Homo sapiens: one gene and its partner. The protein of the gene in region 1 interacts with the protein of each later gene in a pairwise test. Each region holds a gene or a part of one and is shown on either strand. Other genes may lie near its edges. The genes, in order: RCCD1 and KDM8.

What was found.
Region 2: the proteins of RCCD1 (region 1) and KDM8 interact in binary tests that used the Homo sapiens proteins (3 or more experiments, as listed by UniProt).

The regions. Positions count from the first base shown.
Region 1 is NC_000015.10:90,947,194-90,958,189, reverse strand, and holds the start of RCCD1 (RCC1 domain-containing protein 1), read right to left. Parts: upstream 3,307-10,996; 5' UTR 3,242-3,306; exon of another isoform or gene 2,307-3,241; intron 1,579-2,306; 5' UTR 1,456-1,578; coding exon 1,290-1,455; intron 1,078-1,289; coding exon 687-1,077; intron 587-686; coding exon 465-586; intron 1-464. Other genes in the region: UNC45A (protein unc-45 homolog A), read right to left, coding at 4,474-4,731, 4,880-5,035, 5,144-5,261, 7,575-7,690, 7,923-8,036, 8,470-8,536, 8,747-8,874, 9,396-9,536 and 2 more. UniProt on the Homo sapiens protein: Plays a role in transcriptional repression of satellite repeats, possibly by regulating H3K36 methylation levels in centromeric regions together with KDM8.
Region 2 is NC_000016.10:27,196,569-27,208,400, reverse strand, and holds the start of KDM8 (bifunctional peptidase and arginyl-hydroxylase JMJD5), read right to left. Parts: upstream 4,876-11,832; 5' UTR 4,765-4,875; intron 4,427-4,764; exon of another isoform or gene 4,309-4,426; coding exon of another isoform or gene 4,226-4,308; intron 1-4,225. UniProt on the Homo sapiens protein: Bifunctional enzyme that acts both as an endopeptidase and 2-oxoglutarate-dependent monooxygenase.

The DNA of each region.
Region 1 (10,996 bases):
CTCCTCACTCTGGCCAGCTGTGGCACCACCACAGGGACACACTCATCACCATCCTGGTGCCTGGTGGGCACCCCAGTGTCCACCCTGTGCCACACATCATGGCCCCCTAGGCAACTGCAGCGTTTCTGCGTTTTCCTTGGCTCAGCTGCCCCCTCACACTCCATACTCCCTCGGCAGCACTGTTAAGAGACAGTCCTGGCTGGGAGCAGGTGGGGAGAGGAGGGGAGGGGCAGTGAGACCAGTAACAGAGAAGCTAGGAACAAATGCCAGAGTCCAGGCGTGAGTGGGCCATGGTGCAGGCAGAGGAGGCCGAGGGTGAGAGGCATTTAGGAGTCATAACTGACTGGGCGATGGATGGATGAATTTGGAAGGAGGCCTGGGTAGGCCCCCACCCAAACTGGAAAACGAGGAGGAAGGTTTGCACAAGATCATGAGCTCGTCTGGAGAAGCACTAAGTCACTCACCACTCACACACACAGAATGCCAGCCCCCCGCGGCCACCTCAGCCATGACTAGGCCCTGCAACGCCTCCAACAGCCGTGGCTCCAGCTCTGCCTCCAGGGTCCCATGGCCCAGCTGTCCATGCCTGAGCAAGGGAGACCGTCGTCAGCTACAGTCGCATTAAGGGGTCCCGCTCCGCTTGCTTCTCCAATCAGCAGCCCTCACCTGCCCCCGCCTCCGCTCACCTGCCCCCGCCCCAGGAGAACACCTGGCCAGCAGCGTCCAGCAGCAACGCGTGCTCGGCGCCCAGCTCCAGCTGGCGTGCCCGCAGCTCCGGAGCCAGAGGCCGGTAGAAGGGCGCCCGCGGGCTCACGTAGGCACGGGCGCAGGGCAGCAGGGGTAGCCTCCCAGCCTGGGCCTCACCGGCCGGATCGTCTTCCCCTTCGGCCTCGGGCACCACATTCTGGGCCCACAATGGCTCCCCACGCAGCGCCGATTCGGCCGCCCAGACCTGCAGTAACGCCTCCGGCCCCGGCCCGGCGCGCAGCACCGCGAGGAGCCCCTCCGAGGCCCACGCGTCCTTGCAGCGGCCCGCCGCGCCGCTGGCTGAGCCCGACAGCTCCAAGCGGCCTCCACCTGCGGGGCGGATTGGAGCAGGGTGGCCAGAATGGAGGCGGCGGGGATGGGGGGAGCGGGGTGTTCCTGGGAAGGGGTCGAATTGGGGACCAACCCAGAATGTGGGGCTGGCGGCCTGAACGGGGGAGACAAACTGGACTGGCCACAGCGGTGCGGGGAGGCGACTGGGGAGCGCGGCTGGAATAAGTGGGGACGGGGCGGGGAGTGCTCACGGGTCACGAAAGCGGTGTAGCTCCAGCTCGCGCTCACGCGGCAGATGTCGACGCCCGCCCGCAGCGGACTGGGGCTGTGCACCTGGCGCCCGCGTCCGGAGCCCAGCTCCTGCCCGAAGCCGCAGAAACCGAAGCCGAACCAGGCCCCCGGCCGCTCCTCCGCCATGCCCGAGCAGCGCCCTCTGCCGGCCGCCGCCTGGCTGCGGCGGGCCCGGGGGGATTCTTGCGAAGAGCCCGCTAGTGGGACACTGGCAAGTCTCTGGCCTTCCAGGGGCTGGAGCTGCCTTATCTGTAAAATGGAGAAACTATCATTCTCCCGACCACAAAGGCAGAGTCCGTGCCACGAAGGTTCGCTGAGCAGGCGCCCTGACTAATGCCCTACCGGATTTACAAAGATGCTCAAATATTTAGAGGCACTTTCCCTGTCCTCCCTTTTGGCTCAAGCTCAGCGTGCCACAAAGTGGGTACGAAGTGGCCTGTCCTTTAGGCATTGGACTAGGATCCGAGCGCCCCCGACACCCCCACCCCGTCCCGCAGCTTCCCAGCATCTGGCACTTTATCCCATGTAATCTTGGGAACCAAAATGGTCGTTTTACAGAGGAGATTCTGAGACAAAGTAACCCTTACACACTCATACAGCCAGACAGAGAGGGGCAGAGCGCTGAAATCAGGTCCCACCAACTCCACACACAGTGCTCTGCCCCTCTCCCCACAGCGGAACGCAGAAGAGCGTTTGGGAGGCAGTGCCTCTGCAACTCAGCGGGGCCTTGGGACCGCAGCCAATCCACCTGAGTCCAACTGCGTTTCTTCAGTTTACAAAGGGAGGTGGGGGCGGTGCTGTTTGAACCTTCCTCACAGAATTGTAATAAATGCAAATAAAGGGTTTGGTGCGAGTACATGCCATGATAAACACACAGTATTAGCTTACTGAATCCAGTATTTAGTGTTGACAAAAAAATTATCCCTGGACATCTTACTGGTTTTGAGAAACTTATACAGACAGAATTTCAACTGTACCTTATCTAGCCATTTATTCGTCCAGCGAGCATTTACTGAGCGCTCCTCCTCTGCCAGTGAGGACAGCTGTCTGCTCCCAAGGAGCTAACCGTTAAATGGGGAGACAAACAGTCTGGTGGTTACAACAGCAACGCCAACTTCAAGCAGATTCGGCTGGAGCGGGTTTGTTTTTTTTTTTTTTTAATATAATAGAGACAGGGGTCTCGCTATGCTGCCCAGGCTGGTCTCAAATTCCTGGGCTCGAGTGATCCGCCCGCCTCGGCCTCCCAAAGCGTTGGGATTACAGGCGTGAGCCGCTGCACCCGGGCTGAAGCAGAATTGCATGGGCATTTTCAGGCCTCTTAAGTCAGATCCTGGGTCTCTCCTGAGACCCCAGTTCCTGGGCTCCTAACCCCTTCCGTGTCCTCTCCCAACCCAAGGGGGCCTCTGACCTTGATCTTGACCCTATGCCCTCTACCCTCTCGGGCAGGTCCTTCTGGTGGGCAGCCTTGGAGGAAACGCCGAGGCGCAGAGCGGCCGCCTCCGGAAAGGCCTCCCGCCCAGCGGGCGCCGACAGCCACGGGGAGAAAAGGTTTGAAGGGCGCGCGGCGCGAGGCGGCCAATCACCAGCAAGGGCGGTGACGTCGCCGCCCGGGGCGCGGCGGCCGCAGCCCTGTTCAACTCCCCTTGAGGGCCTCTCCGGTCCCGAGGCCTACGCCGGGGCCCTGCGGCCCGGTCTGTGAAATGGGCTGAAACCTCCGAGGGGCGTTGGACCAAGGCCCTGGAGGAAACCGGGGGCGTTGGACCAAGGCAGAGGTTGGGCCAGGTGGTCCCGCCCCTGCAGGAACCCGTGGGGCTGGAGCTCGGATTAGAACCACAGAGAGGACATTCATTAAGACTTGAGCTAAAGGTTTGGCGAGGAGTGACGCCCAAGACGGGCGGACCCCGCCACCCACCTCAGTCCCGGGACCGCGGCAGCTCAAAACCCGACACGCGCCGGACTCATGCCCCAACAGGAAGCAGCTTTTACCTTCCACGGATTGGCTCAGGACCCGTCACGTGCCTCTGTCGAGCCAACGAGCCTCACGCTGGGCTTAGCCCTCCTCGAACGTGCTGGGGTGGTGGGCGGGGCCCAAGCCGCCCTTCAACCAGGCTCAGCTGGCCACCAACCCCAACCCCCGCCCCAGCGCCCTCAGCGGAGGCCACAGAGGACTCCCAATATAAAGACAAACGTACTGAAGGCCCAGCATATGGGAGTCTCTACCCTAAACGACTTATTTCTTGGGATAGTTTAATATTTTTTGAGATAGGGTCTCGCTGTGTCGCCCAGGCGACACTTTGGGAGGCTGCGCTCTGGGCTCACTGCAACCTTCGCCTACCGAGTAGCTGGGATTACAGGTGCATGCCGCCACACTCTGCTCTTTTTTTTTTTTTTTTTTTTTTTTTGGTATTTTTATAGAGAAAGAGTTTTGCTTGTTGCCCAGGCTGGTCTCGAACCCCTGACTTCAAGTGATCCACCTGCCTCAGCCTCCCAAAGCGCTGGGATTACAAGCTTGAGGCACCGCACCTGGTGAGTTTCTTATTGATTAGCTTCCTAGGCTTACCCTTTGTCCCTCCAGTAGGATTAAGAAGCAACTCAGTGGGCCCTGGTTGGGGAATCCATTGGATTCCTTCCATGGAGGTGGGTCTGCCACTGTGAAGCTCCGTTGCACACTCACCCACGCCCAGCTCACACCCATACTCACCCACACTCACCCACTCAGAGACTCCCACTCACAGCAGCCCTCCCTGCCCAAGGACAGGGCACACAGTGGAGTTCTACACACTTTTATTGGAGGGGCAGGCCTGATAGCAGGCTCACAGCTGGTGAGGCTGCTGATGTGTGCGCCCTTCCAGATGCCCCAGGATCCACAGGCTGTGTTGGGATGCACCTTCCCCATTCCCAGCTGACTACAGTAGTACAGAAAAAGGGCCCCTCTGAGTGAGGCTGCAGGCAGTGCTGGCCAAGCAGGGCTGTGTGACTGAACGTGGCCGCTGACTCAGAACAGAGGACATCCTAGGGCAGCAAGCGAGGATGGGCAAGAGTATTGGGCATGCCAGCCACCACCAGCCAAAGCTGCTTCCGTCCTTACTCTCCGTGCCACAATAGGTAGCGTGTGCATGAGCCTTGGGCCCAGGGACAACCCCCTCACTCTCCATCTTGGTTGGGTTGGATAAGCCCATATTCCACTGCTTTGTCCAGGCAGGCTGCAGCAGCCCTTGTGACAGGGCTGTGGTCACCCTTAGCTAGCACTGACAAGATCTCCATCATCTCACTCTCCATCAGGGTGCTGGCAATCTCCCTCGAGGCCTCCACCATGTTCAGCACCACCACAGCACCCCGGTGCTGCAGCTCCTGGTTGGAGCTCAGAAGCAGGGCCTGCAGGATCTCCAGCCAGTGTGTGGTCTGTGAGAAAAACAGGGTAGATATGACCCCTGGGCAACAGGCTCAACCTTGGCAAGGGACACACCCACACACCCTAGGACTGCCCCCTTCAGCTGCTGCTGGGAGTTCCTGGTCCGTCCCTCCTCCCCCACTGAGAAGAGGCACTGACCACTTGGGGAATGCGGCTGCAGAGCGTGGGCCGCATGGAGGTAAGCATGGCCAAGCCCCCGGCAGCTGCCCGCTGTAGCAGCTCATCATCCTCTCCACTGTACAGCACCAGCAGCTTCAGTCGGTCATTGCCCTGGGCTTCGAAGAGGTCCTGCACCTGTGGCCAGATGTGAGGAGTGGACCAAGTCAGTTGGGTGTAAAGCCCAGCCAGGGCACAGGTACCTCTGCATCCCCGCCTGTCATGAGCACCCAGACCAACCCTCACCTCCTTGCTCATGGCCAAGTTACACATGCACTCCGTGGCTGCCCGGCGGATCATCTCATGCTCCTCAAACATGTAGCCTTCTATCATGGGCACAGCCTTCTCCTTCAGGATCTTCTGCCTGCAGGGCCACAGGAGGAAGCAGCAGGGATACGGTTTGGATGTTTTCCCTTCTAACCCTCATGTTGAACTATAATCCCCAATGTTGGAGGTAGGGCCTGGTGGGAGGTGACTGGGTCATGGGATGGGTCCCTCATGGCTTGGTGCTATCCTCGTGATAGTAAGTTCTCGTGAGATCTGGTTATTTAAAAGTGCGTGGCATCTCGGCCGGGCGTGGAGGCTCACGCCTGTAATCCCAGCACTCTGGAAGGCCGAGGCAGGCAGATGACTTGAGGTCAAGAGTTCGAGACCAGCCTGGCCAACATGGTGAAACCTTGTCTCTACTAAAAAGACAAAAAAAAATTAGCTGGGTATGCTGGTGCGCGCCTGTAGTCCCAGCTACTCAGGGAGGCTGAGGCAGGAGAAGCGATTGAACCCAGGAGGTGAAGGTTGCAGTGAGCCAAGATTGCGCCACTGCACTCCAGCCTGGGCAACAGAGGGAGACTCCATTTCAAAAAAAAAAAAAGTGTGTGGCACCTCCCCCGACTGTCTCTTGCTCCTACTTTCACCATGTGATGTGCCTGCTCCTGCTTTGCCTTCTACTATGAGTAAAAGCTCTCTGAGGCCTCCCCAGAAGCTGAGCAAATGCCAATGCCATGCTTACACAGCCTGTAGAGCCAGGAAGCAATTAAATCTCTTTTCTTTATAAATTACCCAGTCTCAGGTATTCCTTTACAGCAATGCAAGAACAGACTAACACCGGCAGCATCATCAGAGTTTCTACATCTGCTCCACCCCTGCACCCACACCCTCATGCAATCAAGTCCTGGGCTGAGGATTTCCCTTGGCAATGTCCAAGGACCCTCTTGCACCAGGTATGAACTACAGTGCTTCTTAGCCTTCTAACCAGGCCTAGGAAATAGCATAGGATTGTGGGAAATGCTCAAAATTAGGATGTAGAAGACCAGGGTGGTCGTGATGGTGAGGCTAACACCTAACATTTGAGGGTTTTTGTTTCTGTGTTTTTTTGAGGCAGGATCTCACTCTGTCACCTAGGCTGGAGTAAAGTGGCATGATCACAGCTCACTGCTGTAGCCTTGACCCCCCCAGGCTCAAGTGATCCTCCTGCCTCAGCCTCTCGAGTAGCTGGGACTACAGGTGCACGCCACCACACCTTGCAAATTTTTTTTCCAACTGTTAAGTTCAGGGGTACATGTGCAGGACGTGCAGGTTTGTTACACAGGTAACCATGTGCCGTTGTGGTTTACCGCACAGATCATCCCATCACCCAGGTATTAAGCCCAGCATGCATTAGCTATTCTTCCTGATATTCTCTTTAATTTCTTTTTTAAATAGGGACGAGGTATTGCTACACTGCTCAGGCTGGCCTGAACTTCTGGGCTCCAGTGATCCTCCTGCCTCATCCTCCCAAATTGCCAGGATTACAGGTGTGAGCCACCACGCCCGGCCTCATTTGAGTATTTACCCTGACCAGGCACCTGGATCATCTTACTTAATTCTCACCATGGCCCTATACTAAAGGTGCAAGTGTGATCATCATCACTACTGTTTTGCAGAATAGGAAACGGGCTAAGTAATGAGTAATATGTTCAAAGTCACAGTTAGTAATAAAACTAAAACATGCTGGCCAGCTGCAGTGGCTCACACCTGTAATCCCAGCACTTTGGGAGGCTGAGGTGGGCGGATCACGAGGTCAGGAGATCTAGACCAGCCTGACCAACATGGTAAAGCGCCATCTCTACAAAAATACAAAAATTAGCCAGGCGCGGTAGCACGTGCCTATAATCCCAGCTACTCAGGAGGCTGAGGCAGGAGAATCGCTTGAACCTGGGAGGCAGAGGTTGCGGTGAGCTGAGATCATGCCACTGCCCTCTAGGCTGGGTGACAGAGCAAGACTCCGTCTCAAAGAAAAAAAAAAACTAAAATATACTGATATGGCACAATGCTAGGGGCCAGGTACCCATGTAGTAAGTACTTTTAGGTGTATTTTCTCATTTTATTCTCCTCATCACTATGCCATGAGGTAGGTACTATAATCATCCCATTTCACAGAGGGAGAAACTGAGACAGAGCAGTTAAGTAACTTGCTTGAGGTTGCCCATTTGCAATCAGGGAAGCGAGGCAGTCTGACTCTAGAGTCTGCCGTGCCGTGCTGCCTCTTGGCCTGTCGCCTCCTCTCTAATGATGCGGAGCAGTCACTGTGAGGCTCACAGAAGCCCATGACCAAGGAGTGTTTCCCAATGTGTAAACTGCTGTGGGGGATATTCCGAATCCCGATGCCTGGTCCAGGCCCCGCAATCCCAAGGGACCTTACCGGAGCCTCTCGCTGATCCCAGCCAGGTTTGTTAGGGCCATGAGCGCCTCGAAGTTCTGCAGGCCTGAGCAGTTGAGGTGCAACAGGGAGACGAGGGGCCGGACCACCTCATAGATCTGCAATGTGCACCCCACCTGTCAGGGGTACTTGCCGCAGCCCCCACAAGCCCCACCAACCCTGCAGGGAGAAGCCCACCCCCAAGAGAGTACTGCTGTCTCAGGCTGTCCTCCCTGCCCCAGGCCTTGACAAAGCTGAAACTTCCTGCTGGTCCCAAAGGGGAGCTACAGCCCAGCCCACAGGCCATCAGGGACAGAGGGAGTGGAAAGGCCGGGGCAGGAAGACACGTACCCGCTCGCCAGGGAAGGTCATCTCCGGGTTGGAGGTGATGGTGAGCTTGGCAAGGGCCTGGGCTGCCTTTGTCTGCCCCACGTCCGTGCCTTCCAGGGCCAGCGGGATCAGCGCCTGTAGGAACAAGCCCGTCACTGCTCAGGACATCCCTGGGAGTAAGACCCCGACCATCGGGCTCCCCAGCCCTGACCGTGCCACCCTCACCTTCCTCCCTCTCCCCAGGCTTGACTCCCTGTGCAGACCCTCTGCATCCAAACACTTCCTGAAACACCTAATAAGGGCTGGACATGGATTGTGCTGAGCACCAGGGCCATGGGGGTAAATGAGACAAAGGAACAGTAGAGCCTAGGACCTTCACAGGCACCAGTGTGGAGGGGCCAAGGAGCTTGCCTGCTTCCGCGTCACTCTCTCAGCGGGACGGTGTTCCTCTGGCCATTAATGTTTTTCTGTTCCATATCTAACACCCAGCTCTGGCGTGGCAGCTGCTGAGTCATGTTTTATAGGCTGATGGCTCAGCCATCAGGAAGGGGTGTGTAAACCAGCTTACCCTGCCGCCTCCCTGGGCAACCACAGTGCCTCGGTCCTCTACCTCTTCCACTAAAGCCAAGAAGACCCTGTGGGGAGAAGGCGGTGGTGGGCAGGCAGCTCTGGGACTCTGGCAGGCAGACGCTGCACTCCTAGGCTCAGCAAAGACGGCAGCCACGCAGGCAGCCCCCGTCGCTCTAAGAGGCCCACAGCACTGGAACCTGCACCCTCTGGAGCCACATCTGCAGCCCTGAGGCTCAGGAGTTGGGAAAGGTTGGCTCCTACCAAGGCTGGCTCACCTGGAGAGCAGCTCTCTGCAGGAACTGGTCAGCACAGGGCTCTCCGTCTTCACCATGCACACCATGGCCGACACCACACCCGCTGCCAGCAGCTTCTTCACCCGAGCCCGCACGAAGCTTGGCTTGTCCTGGGGGAGGAGGCAGCTTAGGAGAGGGGCCTAGGCTGACTCACAGAGAAAGGGGGACCCTTCTCACAGCAGTAATTGAGGAACTGGGAAATAAAACAGCCAGACAAAAGGAAACAAACTGGCTTAAAAGGGAGGCTGTTGGCTGGGCACGGTGGCTCACACCTGTAATCCCAGCACTTTGGGAGGCTGAGGCAGGCGGATCACGAGGTCAGGAGATCGAGATCATCCTGGCTAACACGGTGAAACACTGTCTCCACTAAAAATACAAAAAATTAGCCAGGCATGGTGGCGGGCACCTGTAGTCCCAGCTACTCGGGAGGCTGAGGCAGGAGAATGGCATGAACCCGGGAGGCGGAGCTTGCAGTGAGCCGAGATCGCATCACTGCACTCCAGCCTGGGAGACAGTGAGACTCCATCTCAAAAAAAAAAAAAAAAAAAAAGGGAGGTTGTTCTGCTGTGGATGCCCTGGGTTAGCTGTCCCCATGGTGGGGAACCCTCTAGCCCCTCTGGCGGCCCCTCACCTTGGGGTGCTGCTCGGGCACATGCTGCTTGGCATACTTGGCCAGCTCCACCATCTTGGGGTCGGGCTCCTCGTAGTCATAGCTGTTGGTGCAGTTCACCAGCGCTGAGGCCACCGCAAAGAGCACTGACCTCTCCTCCAACTGCCAGGACACAGAGGAATTCACATGGGCATCCCGGGGCAGAGCAGTACTCAGATAAATGCTGCCCAGGCCCAGGCCCCCAATTCCACCCTCAGCTGGGACCCTTGGGTACAGGATGAATTCGGGAAACTCCCAGGCCCCAGACTTTGGGAGCTTACAAACTTGACCTCCCCAGCTCCTCCAAGAAGAACGTCCTTGCTAACACCACTGGTGCTGGCCAACATGCCCACACTACACAGAGCAGCCACTCAGCCACCAGCCCTCTTCCCTGGGGTCAAAAGACCCCATTGGCCAAGCCCTGCCGAGAAAGCCTGGTAAGGTCTAATCCTAGACAGTGTCCCCAGGCTGACGGCAGGAACCACAGAGCTACCCTGCTGAGCTGGAACAGAGCTTTCAGAGCAGCCGCATCCTCCACAAACTCTTCCTTCACGTCGGCATCAAAGGTCAGGTAAGCCAGGCCCTCCACTGCCCAGCGCCGAGTGCCTGCGTCGATCTGGTCATTGCACAGCCACCTGGGGACACGCAGGATAGTGGACGACCCTCAGGATTGGGGGTACGGAGGGGTACACCAAGGCCAAGGGGGAAAAACCAAGGGTTTGGGCATCCCCTCAATGTACAGAAGCAGTTCACGTACCAGGATCCAGACTGCAGCCCCTGCCTGAGCCAGAGAGCAGGACGGAGGAGGCCCCAACCCCCACCCAGACCCCTGTGTCTTGAGATCTACCCCACAGGTGGGGAACCACAGCAAGGCCAGATGACTCACTTTCGACACTGCTTAGCCAGTTTGAGAGTGGAGCCTTCAGCAAACTGCTTCATGCTGAAGTCAGTCCCTCCAGCCGAACCGAGCTTACAGAGTCCCTGGAGGAAGAGGGCAAGACCAGTTGGCCTCTGGGGAAGGAGGCAGGAGCTGAGCTCCTCCACACCTGGCTTGGACTCCCTCCCTGGCACTCTGCCATGGCCCCCTGGAAGCTACACAGACAAATCAGCACCCTCTCCCTCCAGACCACCACCTAGAGCATGTGGCAAGAAAATCAGCTACTGGGGTGGCCGCATGACACAGCATCTGCAGACACTGATGCGCTGGCCGCTGGACAGTCGTGGGCCCCACCCCTTCCCAGGCCACACTGAGAATGGCTCTGTTTCCTTCCATGTCGCACAAAGAAGCCCTCTGCAGGTGGAGTTGAGAGGCATGTGGGGAGAGGACAGGTGCTTCAGCCACAGCCAAATCCTTATGGGATGGAGAAATCCAGGACTGAGTGCCCCAGGGAGGAAGACCAGCTTCCACAGGGTGCACAGCCACAACAGGCTCATGGAGGGCCAGGTAGTCCCCAAACCCCCAAACCACCAGCTCCCAGGAACACTGCATGACCCCTGCAGGCCCAGTCTTAAGCCCCATGGAGGGAGGAGCCATGCCGATGTCTCTCACCACAAGAAAGCCCAGAATCTCGTTCATTCATCCA
Region 2 (11,832 bases), on another chromosome or scaffold:
GTTTCAGGGTGACCTTATAAAACGGCCCCTCACAGGGCGCCTATCAGCCTTACCAAGCCAGCTTCTCAAGGTGGCCTCACGTGTGCGGCTTTGTAGCCAGGTTCCCCCAGTGGCCCCGTGTCTGCTTTGTCACCTGGCCTCCCAGGGTGGCCTCATGTTTGGTCTTCATAGGCGGCCTATCTGCTACTTTGCAAATCGGCCTTGGAGACCTCATGTTGAAGGCCAATGGACACAGCCTTCTGGGAAAGATGGCCTCCTAATACTGTGAGTTGGCTGTACAAAACTATCTGCTCTTGGCCACATGAAATAGCCTTATGATTATTCTTTAATGCAGAGTTCTTCAATGAACGGCCTTATCAAAAGGCCTTCAGAGATACTTACGTTGACAATATATGATGGTTTTCCAGAGACAGAGGCTTCAGGATGGCTGTATAAGTTTGTTTTCAAAATGGCTTTTCAGATTGCCTCTGTATAAGCCACTTGAAATGGCCTCCCCAAAGGCCTCAAGATTATTATACACTATCCCCCAGCAGGGCACCTATAATCCCAGCTACTCGGGAGTCTGAAACAGGAGGACTGCTTGAGCCCAAGAATTCGAGACCAGCCTGGGCAACATGTAAAGACCCTGTCTCTAAAAACAATTAAAAAATTAGTTAGCTGGTCATGGTGGCACACACCTGTAGCCCCAGCTACTCCGGGAGCTGAAGCAGGAAGATTGCTTGAGCTCAGGAGTTTAAGGCTGCAAGTGAACTGTGTTTGTGCCTCTGCACTCCCATCTGGGTGACAGAGTGAGACCCTGTTTCAAAAAATAAAACTATAGCCTCCTACAAGGCCTTATGTTGGCAGCATGGTGAAGTGGCATTCTGGCCGCATCAGTCTTCTGCCTTGTTGCATAGGCTTCCCCAAACCTCTCATGATTTGGCCTTTTATGTAGTTACCATATCAAACAGCCACATCCTGGTATAGGAAGCAGTCTTCCAAAGCAGTTTTGTGAGATGGAGTCTTGCTCTGTCACCCAGTCTGGAGTGCAGTGATGCGATCTCGGCTCACTGCAAACTCCACCTCCCAGGTTCAAGTGATTCTCCTGCCTCAGCCTCTGAGTAGCTGGGACCACAGGCACGCATGCCATCACGCCCGACTAATTTTTGTATTTTTAGTAGAGACGGGGTTTCGCCATGTTGGCCAGGCTGGTCTCCAACTCCTGACCACAAGTGATCCACCCACCTCAGCCTCCTAAAGTGCCGGGATTACAGGTGTGAGCCACCACGCCCGGCCCTTGTAACTTGTTTTAAAAACTGGCCTTCCTATAGATGGGGGCTTGTCTGAGGACCAGGTGAAGTCAGATTTTGTCTTAGTTTTACAAATCGATCTGTGGTTTCTTCATTGTGCCAGGAAAGAATTGTTTGTTGTGTCCATCTACCCCGCTGGGAGCAGCCTCACATTGGCTCCTGTTAGCCATGCAAAATGGCCTTACAGAAGGAGTCTTGGTCTGGCTGGGGAAACACTCTCTTGCTGGCTGTATGAAACAATCTTCCAGGGTCACTGGCCTCATGGGCTATGAGAAGCAGCCTTCACACCACCAACCACTTGAGATGGCCCTCCTGGGAAGGTCAGGTGCGAGCCACAGGTCACTGCCTTTCTGAATGGCCTCAGGTCCAGGCTCATCAGCCTTCTGGCATTTCCCATATACTGGTCTGATAAAAAGGCTTCTTGTTGTATCAAGAGGTTTTCTAGAGGAAAGGACTAGCCAGAGTAGCCTTATGGCCTGGCTTTATTGATTGGCTTCCCAGAACTCCTCACTGAATTGCTGTTTATAAAGTCTTATATTAAGGCCACGTGCATCGCTCACGCCTGTCATCCTAGCACTTTGGGAGGCTGAGGAGGGTGGATGACCTGAGGTCAGGAGCTCGAGACCAGCCTGGCCAACATGGTGAAAACCCATCTCTAATAAAAATACAAAAATTAGCCAGCGTGGTGGTCCACGCCTATAATCCCAGCTACTCGGGAGGCTGAGGTAGGAGAATTGCTTGAACCTGGGAGGCAGAGGTTGGGGTGAGCTGAGATCTAGCCACTGCACTCCAGCTTGGGTGACAGAGCAAGAGTCTGTCCCTCCCGAAAAAAAAAAAAAGCACACGCACACAAAAGGCTTACATTAAACAAACAGGCTTCCAAAGGAGGGAGTCAAGAATAAGATGTGTGACTTGCCAGTTCCCTGCAAGAAGAAAAAAGATGTGTGAAGCAGTCTTTGAGAGTGGTGCCACAGACTGGCCTTCGAGAGCTCTACATAAAAGGGTTTATTGGGAGTTGTACAGATAGCCTTCTAGTGGCCAGGTATAGGTGGGTCATCCAAACCAAGATGCTATTAATATTTATGTCTGCATCAGTAAAAAACTGGTGTTATTCTAGGCAAACTGACACCTACCGTAACCCAAATGTGGGCCATATCAAAAAGCCTGAGTGGCCTCGTATCTTCACTTTACAAATCAGTCTCCCAGAGCTCAACAGGTATTGGCCTTCAAAGACCTCTTGTTGATCACAGAAGGTTTTTTTATTTTTATTTTTTTTGAGACAGAGTCTTTCTGTCACTCAGGCTGGAGTGCAATGGTGCGATCCCGCCTCACTGCAACCTCTGCCTCTCAAGTTCAAGCAATTCTCCTGCCTCTGCCTTCTGAGTAGCTGGGATTACAGGTGCCCGCCACTGTGCCTGGCTAGTTTTTCTATTTTTAGTAGAGACGGGGTTTCACTCTGTTGCCCAGGCTGGTTTTGAACTCCTGACCTCAGGGTGATCTGCTTGGCTTCCCAAAGTGCTCAGATTACAGGTGTGAGCCGCCACGCCCGGCCCAGAGAAGGCTTTATTTATTTTTGTGGGGAGGGGGGCGGTCAGGTATAGAAACAGCTTGAGTGGGCTTATGTCCTGGCTTTGTGAACTGGCCTCATAACCTGGAACAGCTTTCAGGGGGAGATCAAGTGTGGGTTGCATAAAACAGCTTTTGAGTGGACTTGATTCAGCCCCTAAATGCTCCTTACATAAAGTCTTGTCTGCTGGTGTATGAAATGATCTTGCAAAGAAGGTCAGAATATAGGCTGTTATGTGCTAACCTCTGAGTGGTTTTTCTCCTGGATTTATAAATAAGACTAAAATGAATCTTATAAAAGCCTTCTTGTTGGTCGTACTAAACAAAAAGGAGCCAAGTATAACCTGTATAAAACAGCCGGAATAGACTCAGGCCTGGACTTTATAAATTCACCATCCAGGCAGAATTCACTATGCAAACTGGCAAAGTAGGTCCCTGGTAGGTTATGGGATATATCCCTCTTGGAAGCCACTGCCCTGTCATCCTAGGATTCTCTCAAATTATTTTTATTATTTTTTTTGAGACGGAGTCTCGCTCTGTCACCCAGGCTGGAGTGCACTGGCCCAATCTTGGCTCACTGCAACCTCCGCTTCCCAGGTTCAAGCAATTCTCCTGCCTCAGCCGCCCAAGCAGCTGTGATTACAGATGTGCACCACCACACTCAGCTAATTTTTTATTTTTAGTAGAGACGGGGTTGCGCCATGTTGGTCAGGCTGGTCTTGTGAACTCCTGACCTGAAGTGATCGGCCTGTCTCGGCCTCCCAAAGGGCTGGGATTACAGGTGTGAGGCACCGCGCCCAGCCTTAAATTATTTTTAAACATCAACTCCTCTAAAGCACCTCCCTGAGTATTCTTTAAGGTGGCTGGGTGGAATGGCCTCTCCGAGAGCCTCACTGTGATTTGCAGAGGGTCTCAGGGTGGGCACTCTGCAAGCACCATGCTGGTCATGAGAAAGCCTCCCAAAAGGGGCTTCCAGGACAGATCAGCCTACACCTAGCTTTCTGGGAACAGGCGGTCCAGTTCTCTAATCTCCTCAATGTTATTATGGCAGTATTCCACAAAAATTGTGCAAAAACAAGAGCTTCGTAAAACTTCCCAGGAAAGTTTGGAACATTTTCCAGAAAGCTTTAATTCATGGCACAGGGATCCCTTTGGCTCTCTAAGGGGCACACAGTCTTGTGTTTGGGTCGTCCGTGTGGCCCCAACGCCTGCGCACCTCCTGTCCCCGGGCTTGCTCCCGAGTCCTCCTGAGCACGGCGATTCCTACCGTTGCCGGGAAACGCACCGATGCCCATCGTTAAGTCCTACCGAGCTACAAGCACCTTTCCTTAGGGCAGTCACACACCCAGGCCCCAGAGGGTCCCCCGTACCCCGCACTGGCCTTGAGCCCCGAGGCCTCAGACCCCCTTCCCTCCTCAGCGCCTTCCCCGGGGCTGCATTTCTCGCGGCTCATATTTGGGACCTGACGGCGGAATCGTTTCCAGCCTGCCTTGCGGCCCAGGGGCAGCGGCTGGTTGCCTAAAAGCAGCGGACACACATATAGCAGAGTATAAAACCCGCGCAGGCGCACTAGGCCTACACCAACGCGACGCCAAGAACCGCTAAAGCGCACAGCAGCCCGCCGTAAGGGCCTGCCCTCACGCATGCGCAAAACCACTGCCAAGAGACGAGCATACGCACGCGCGGAACCTTTCCCTTTATCCTCCCGCAGGGCAGGCCGGCGACGAGCTAAATTGCATTCTCAGAGCGCATGCGGCAACTCGAGCCACCCTCGGGGTTTTCCAAGGCGCACGCGCGAGGCCGGGCTTGGCTGCTTCACATGACGCCTGCGCGGTCTATGCCTCTGAACCCGGCCTCTCCACTTCTGAGGAACTGGAGCTGACTCCGCTCTCGAGTTGCTCAGACTAACCTCTCTTCAGCTGGGACGGTGTCGAGTCGCCTTTGGGCTGGCGAAGACTCGTTGCGTTTGGTCCGACCACTCGGCTGTGTCCCCTGAGGAGCCAGAGGCTAGCATAGGAGTATCGATCGCTCACCGCTCGTCTGATCACGACGCAGTGCCTGGAGGAGCGCCGAGTGATCGATGCCGTGGCCCCGCCCCACTGCTGTTTAAAAGGCCGGGGGATGGAGAAGACAGAAAGGCTTGGCTGTATCCTCTGGGTCCTTCCACGCTAGTGATACCGCTTTTTCCTCTGCACAGATAACAACTTCGTACAAGGCTGTTTGCATCCACCATTTAATCTCTGCAGCTAGGATTATTAGTTCTCCCTATTTTACAGAGAGCGAAACTGAGGCTCAGTGATTAAAGTGGCCACATACTTGTACTTTTGGAAAGTCAGATCCACAATTACCCACGAGCAAGTGCTGCATCCACAGTCTGTTCGAGTGAGAAGGCAAGTGGCCAGGGGACACACTCCTGCCACCTTTGCTTTGATGCCGAGTGGTGCGTGGTCACTGGGACTTTTGTGTTTTGAGCACACACTCCTGTGGACTCCAAGTATGCACGCCTTTTGCAGCATTGCACAGAGGCATGGAAAGTTATGTTCGTACTGAGCTTGGGGTCTGAGTAGGAAACAGGCTTGCTCAGGATCAGTTCATAGATTAGTGGATTCTAGGTACGGTGCTAAAATACTTTAAAAATATGAGGATCGTAGCTATTGTAATGATCATGCTCATCCCCATTTTAGGGAGTGTATTAGTCCGCTTTCATGCTGCTGATAAAGACATACCCGAGACTGGGCAATTTACAAACAAAAAGGTTTAATGGATTCACAGTTCCACATGGCTGGGGAGGCCTCAAAATCATGGTGGAAGGTGAAAGGCACGTTTTACATGGTGGAAGACGAGATAATGAGAACCAAGTGAAAAGGGAAACCGCTTATAAAACCATCAGATCTCATGAGTCATATTCACTACCAGGAGAACAGTATGAGGGGAACCTCCCCTATCATTCAGTTATCTCCTACTGGGCCCTTCCGCAACACGGAATTATGGGAGCTACAATTCAAGATGAGATTTGGGTGGGGACACAGCCAAACCATATCAGGGAGGGAGCAAGTAAAGCACAGAAAGATCTCCTAACCCACCAGGCTCACTGGGATGCTGGTGTTTGAACTCAGCAGCCACAGGTTTAGAATCCTCATGGTTATGTGCTACACTAAGTTTCCACCCTTGAGTAGTGACAATGTTGAATTTTCCCTGAGTCTTGTGTCCCCGGAAAAAAGTAAAAAGGAATTGCTCTCACCCTTTTGTGTTGTGGAAAAAAGTTTACTGCAAAGAATCACCCCCCACCCCCACAAGAGAATTTAGATAAGACTCCAAGACACCACCCCCATTGTTTACCTGTGAGAGCAGGTAAACAGGACACAGACCCTCCAATTCTCATTCATTGTCTTATAAGTGATTACCTGAACTGCTTGTCCCACTAATCAATCCTTATAAAACGCTGGTCAACCACTTTGGTTAAGATTCTTTCCTTCCTCCAGGCCCCTGAACTTTGGCTCACCCTGGGCCTGGGCCAGCAGACAGCCCCTCCTCAGAATAGGCTGGCCTCAGGTTGATATATTCTCTGATCTACTAACCCATCATGTCACCCTTTCACCCCACTTCCAGGTTCTTTCTAGCCTTGTTTTCTTCTTCCTATGAAAGAAAAGCTCTTTTTGGCCTAACCCTTGTGGCCACAGTGTACTCTCTTTTGCAAGTCTCCCTTCCCCTGTTATAATAGTCCCTCCTGGCCAGGCGTGGTGGCTCACACCTGTAATCCCAGCACTTTGGGAGGCCGAGGCGGGCGGATCACGAGGTCAGGAGATTGAGACCATCCTGGCTAACACAGTGAAACCCCGTCTCTACTAAAAATACAAAAAATTACCCGGGTGTGGTCACGGGCACCTGTAGTCCCAGCTACTCGGGAGGCTGAGGCAGGAGAATGGTGTGAACCTGGGAGGCGGAGCTTGCAGTGGGCCGAGACACCGCACTCCAGCCTGGATGACAGAGCGAGACTCCGTCTCAAAAAAAAAAGAAAAAAAAGTCCCTCCTGCACCTTGCAATAATCCTTTCAAATAAAGCCACTCTTTTTTGTTTCCTTCAAATAGGATTTTTCTTTTTTATTTTTTTAAAATTATACTTTAAGTTTTGGTTTACATGTGCACAGCGTGCAGGTTTGTTACATACGTATACATGTGCCATGTTGGTTTGCTACACCCATCAACTTGTCATTTGCCTTAGGTATTTCTCCTAATGCCATCCCTCCCCCAGGACCCCACCCCCTGCCAGGCCCTAGTGTGTGATGTTCCCCTCCCTGTGTCTACGTGTTCTCATTGTTCAACTCTCACTTATGATTGAGGACATGTGGTGTTTGGTTTTCTCTTCTTGTGTTACTTTGCTGAGAATGATGGTTTCCATTTTCATCCATGTCCTTGCAAAGGACATGAACTCATCCTTTTTTATGGCTGCATAGTATTCCATGGTGCATATGTGCCACATTTTCTTTATCCAGTCTATCATTGATGGGCATTTGGGTTGGTTGCTATTGTGAACAGTGCTGCAAAAAACATACGTGTGCATGTGTCTTTATAGTAGAATGTACAAAAATCACAAGCATTCCTATACACCAATACCAGACAAACCGAGAGTCAAATCATGAGTGAACTCCCATTCAATAAAATACCTAGGAATCCAACTTACAAGGGATGTGAAGGACCTCTTCAAGGAGAACTACAAACCACTGCTCAAGGAAATAAAAGAGGACACAAACAAATGCAAGAACATTCCATGCTCATGGATAGGAAGAATCAATATCATGAAAATGGCCATACTGCCCAAAGTAATTTATAGATTCAATGCTATCCCCATCAAGCCACCACTGACTTTCTTCACAGAATTGGAAAAAACTACTTTAAACTTCATGTGGAACCAAAAAAGAGCCTGCATAGCCAAGACAATCCTAAGCAAAAAGAACAAAGCTGGAGGCATCATGCTACCTGACTTCAAACTGTACTACAAGGCTATAGTAACCAAAACAGCATGGTACTGGTACCAAAACAGATATATAGACCAATGGAACAGAACAGAGGCCTCAGAAATAACACCACACATCTACAACTATCTGATCTTTGACACACCTGACAAAAACAAGCAATGGGGAAAGGATTCCCTATTTAATAAATCGTGCTGCGAAAACTGGCTAGCCATATGCAGAAAGCTGAAACTGGATCTCTACCTTACACCTTATACAAAAATTAATTCAAGATGGATTAAAGACTTAAACATAAGACCTAAAACCATAGAAGCTGTAGAAGAAAACCTAGGCAATACCATTCAGGACATAGGGATGGGAAAAGCCACTCTTTACTAGATCTGAATTTGTTTTGACAGTGGATGGGCAGTTACTCTACAGAGACTACAGTAGGGCGGGCACTAGAATCTCCAACTTGCCCAGACAGGCACCACAGCAAGGACCAAAGGAGATTTGACCTGGGACCCCCTGATTCCAGAAGCCACAGTGTTCAGGAACTGGCTGTTAATGGTGGGTATGGAGTGCTGCCAGTCAGGCAGAGACAAACACCCCTTTTACCAGCTTGTTTGTGTTTTCAAAACTGGCTTGTTGAAATGAATTACAGGCGCAGATGAAATGTTTTCTTAAAAGAACCACAATTTTTCACCACAGGGTTTCACTTCCTGTAGTCTCTTTGCCAGTCCCTCCACCTCCTGTCATTCCCAGCAGCCTTAGAATTGGCCATTAAGCTGACAGACCCATTTGAATGCTGCAAAAGCCACTGAACAGAAAAAGGCATCATTTAGGCCCATATTTGTGATTTTTCTCCATTTGATCAGAAGCCTGTAATTTAAATATATCCAAGTGTGCTGGGAGCATTCGTGACTTAATTATCAAATTTATTTAAAATATATACATACAAACAAAGCTCCAAACTTGCAAACAACGTGTAGCTTGGCCATGAAAGAGACATTTAATTTACTTCAATTGCTTAAAAATAGACATGAAAACCTCCCATGTCTTGGCTCTTCCACTGATGCCACCTGGATTTTCCAGGTGGAGGGTCTGCTCACTTAGTTATTCTGTGCTTTCAATTTCATTTCAGCATGTGACCTTCAGCCGGGAGCTAGCAAGCCTAAAATGACCTTGCGTGAAGACTCAGAGCAAAATACCAGGTGTTTTGTTGAGTGGGTTCCCCTGGGGTACAAGCAAATAGCCCCCAACATAAAGTAAGGCAGACCGGGATACTTTCTGTCTGAGCCTCAGTGTCCACCTCTGAAGTGGCTATGTTGTCTGGGATATATACCCTGGGGTTCATTGTTGCAGCCAGGAAAATTTAGGACATGGACACACATGAGGAGGTTAGGAGCGGAGGTTTAATAGGTAGAAGAGGAGAGAAAGAGAAACAGCTTCCTCTATCGAGGAAGGGGTGTCTCAGTGGGAAAGACTGGTTGGCAGCAAATGCGCAAATTTTATAGTCCAGTTTGAGGAGGCGGTGTCTGATTTACATGGGGCTCATAGATTGGTTAGATCAAGTGTGACGTTTACATAGTGCGTGCAGAAGGCTAGTCACCTCACCCTAATCTTATTATGCAAATGGGCTTTCCAGTTGATCAGCGCCATCTTGTCTGCTTCTTACAGTACATGTGGCTGGCAGAGAAGGGAAGATGGAGCCACCATCTTGAAAATGTCTAGTTGTTAGTTCCTGCCCTCATTCACCCATGCAAGCTCCCAGCTTGCTTGTCTATATCTGCAGCTCAACTTTACAGGCTGCTCTTTGTTAGAAAATGATTTGGGGCTGCTTTTCATGAAAAAGAAAGGCCTTTTACAAGGGTAAAAGGCTATCTGCATAAGTGATTTCTTCTTAACTTCTATGTCGTCTTCATGAAATAGGTATTGTGAACCCTAAATAGCCGAGACAGGTCTCAGTCGATTTAGGAAGTTTATTTTGCCAAAGTTAAGGACGGGCCTGTGACACAGCCTCAGGAGGTCCTGATGACATGTGCCGAAGGTGGTTGGGGCACAGCTTAGTTTTATCCATTCTAGGGAGACATGAGACATCAATCAATATGTGTGAGATGTACATTGGTTTGGTCTGGAAAGGCAGGACAACTCGAAGGAGGGAAGGGGCTTCCAGGTCATAGGTGGATAAGTGACAAATTGTTGCATTCTTTTGAGTTTCTGATTAGCCTTTCCAAAGGAATCCATCAGATATGCATTTCTCTCAGTGAGCGGAGGGGTGACTGTGAGTTCTGTCTGTCCTGAGTCCATAAGAAAATCCCTTGTGGACAAATTGTGAGGAGGTATGTAGCTTTTTTATCTTACTAGCCATCTTCTTTAGGAATGGAATAGGAGGCAGGTTTGCCCTAAGCCGTTCCCAGCTTGACTTTTCCCTTTGGCTTAGTGATTTTGGGATCCTGAGATTTATTTTCCTTTCACAGTATGATAACCGACCTCCCCAGGAGGTAGTGATGGTTAGATAAGGCAGTTAAATGTCTCAAGCTACACTCTCTGTTCTTCCCTCTGTCCCAGAATCTATTTATTCCAACCCTCCACTCACCTGCTGGTAATGGCACAGGCTGCCCTTCCGGTTCTGTGTCCAAGGACCCCTGTGGGCAGTGTGGAAATTCTTAAAATATAGGTTCTTGGGTACTGCTTCTGGATATTTCGATTCAGTAGTTCTGGAGTCAGGTCCAGCTACCAGCCAGCAGCCTGGCCAGGGTTTTGCATTTTCACTAGCTTTCCAGAAAACACAGAGGGAGATGGCACCCACATTTTTGGAAATGTAGCCGATGCCTGGAGAAGTGTTACCCAGACTATGTTACCCAGGCTGGTCTCAAACTCCTGGCTTCAAGTGGTCCCCCTGCCTCAGTCTCCCAAAGTGCCGGGATTACAGGAATGAGTTACGGCAGCTGACAGAGAATCTATTACTTGATGGGAGAGGCTTTAAGTCACATGTCAGAAGGCTTGGGTATGGATGAAGGATGATGTCAAATTTTGGTGCGATTTTTGCAGTGGACAAACACACAAATCCCTGCCCATGTTCTAGTGGCGGGAAACAGGAAATTAGAAAATTATGTGCATTGTTATATATATTATGACTCAAGCAGGGGAAGGGGGACAATGGTGCTATATGTGTGTGTGGTGAGGGCTGCTGGTTTGCATGGAGTGCTCAAATCCTCTCTGATAAGGTGACACCTGAGCTGCAACCTGAAGGAGGTGAGAGAGTAAGTCATATGGGGCCATGTGTGGGAAGACAGTTCCAGGCACAGGGAACAGCAGGTGTGCTGGGCATCTAAAGAAGGAGCACAGAGGTCATCGTGGTTGGTGGTGGGGAGCAAAAGCTGGGGAGTAGAAGCTGATGACGTCAGAGAGATAACTTGGGGGTAACTCTTGTAGGGCTTTACCGGATGTCGTTAGGATTTAGGCTTTTGTTATGGGTGAAATGGGAAGCCCTTGGAGGGTTTTGAACAGAAGAGTGACATGATCTGAGTTAGATTTTAGGAACTCACAGTCCTAGACAATTAAAGATGTAATATTAATAAATACACTGGGTGCAGCAGCTCACACCTGTTATTTCAGCACTGTGGGAGGCTGAAGTAGGAGGATTGCTTGAGGCTGGGATTTCGAGAACAGCCTGGGCAACATAGCAAGACCCTATCTCTACAAAGAAATTTTAAAAAGCCAGACATGATAGCACATGCCTGTAATCCCAGCACTTTGGGAGGCCGAGGCAGGTGGATCACTTGAGGTCGGGAGTTTGAGACCAGCCTGGCTAACATGGTGAAACCCTGTCTCTAACAAAAATTCGGCCAGGCACAGTGGCTCACACCTGTAATCTCAGCACTTTGGGAAGCCGAGGCAGGCAGATCAACTGAGGTTGGGAGTTCGAGACCAGCCTGACCAACAAGGAGAAACCCCGTGTCTACTAAAAATACAAAATTAGCCAGGCGTGATGGCGTATGCCTGTAATCCCAGCTACTCGGG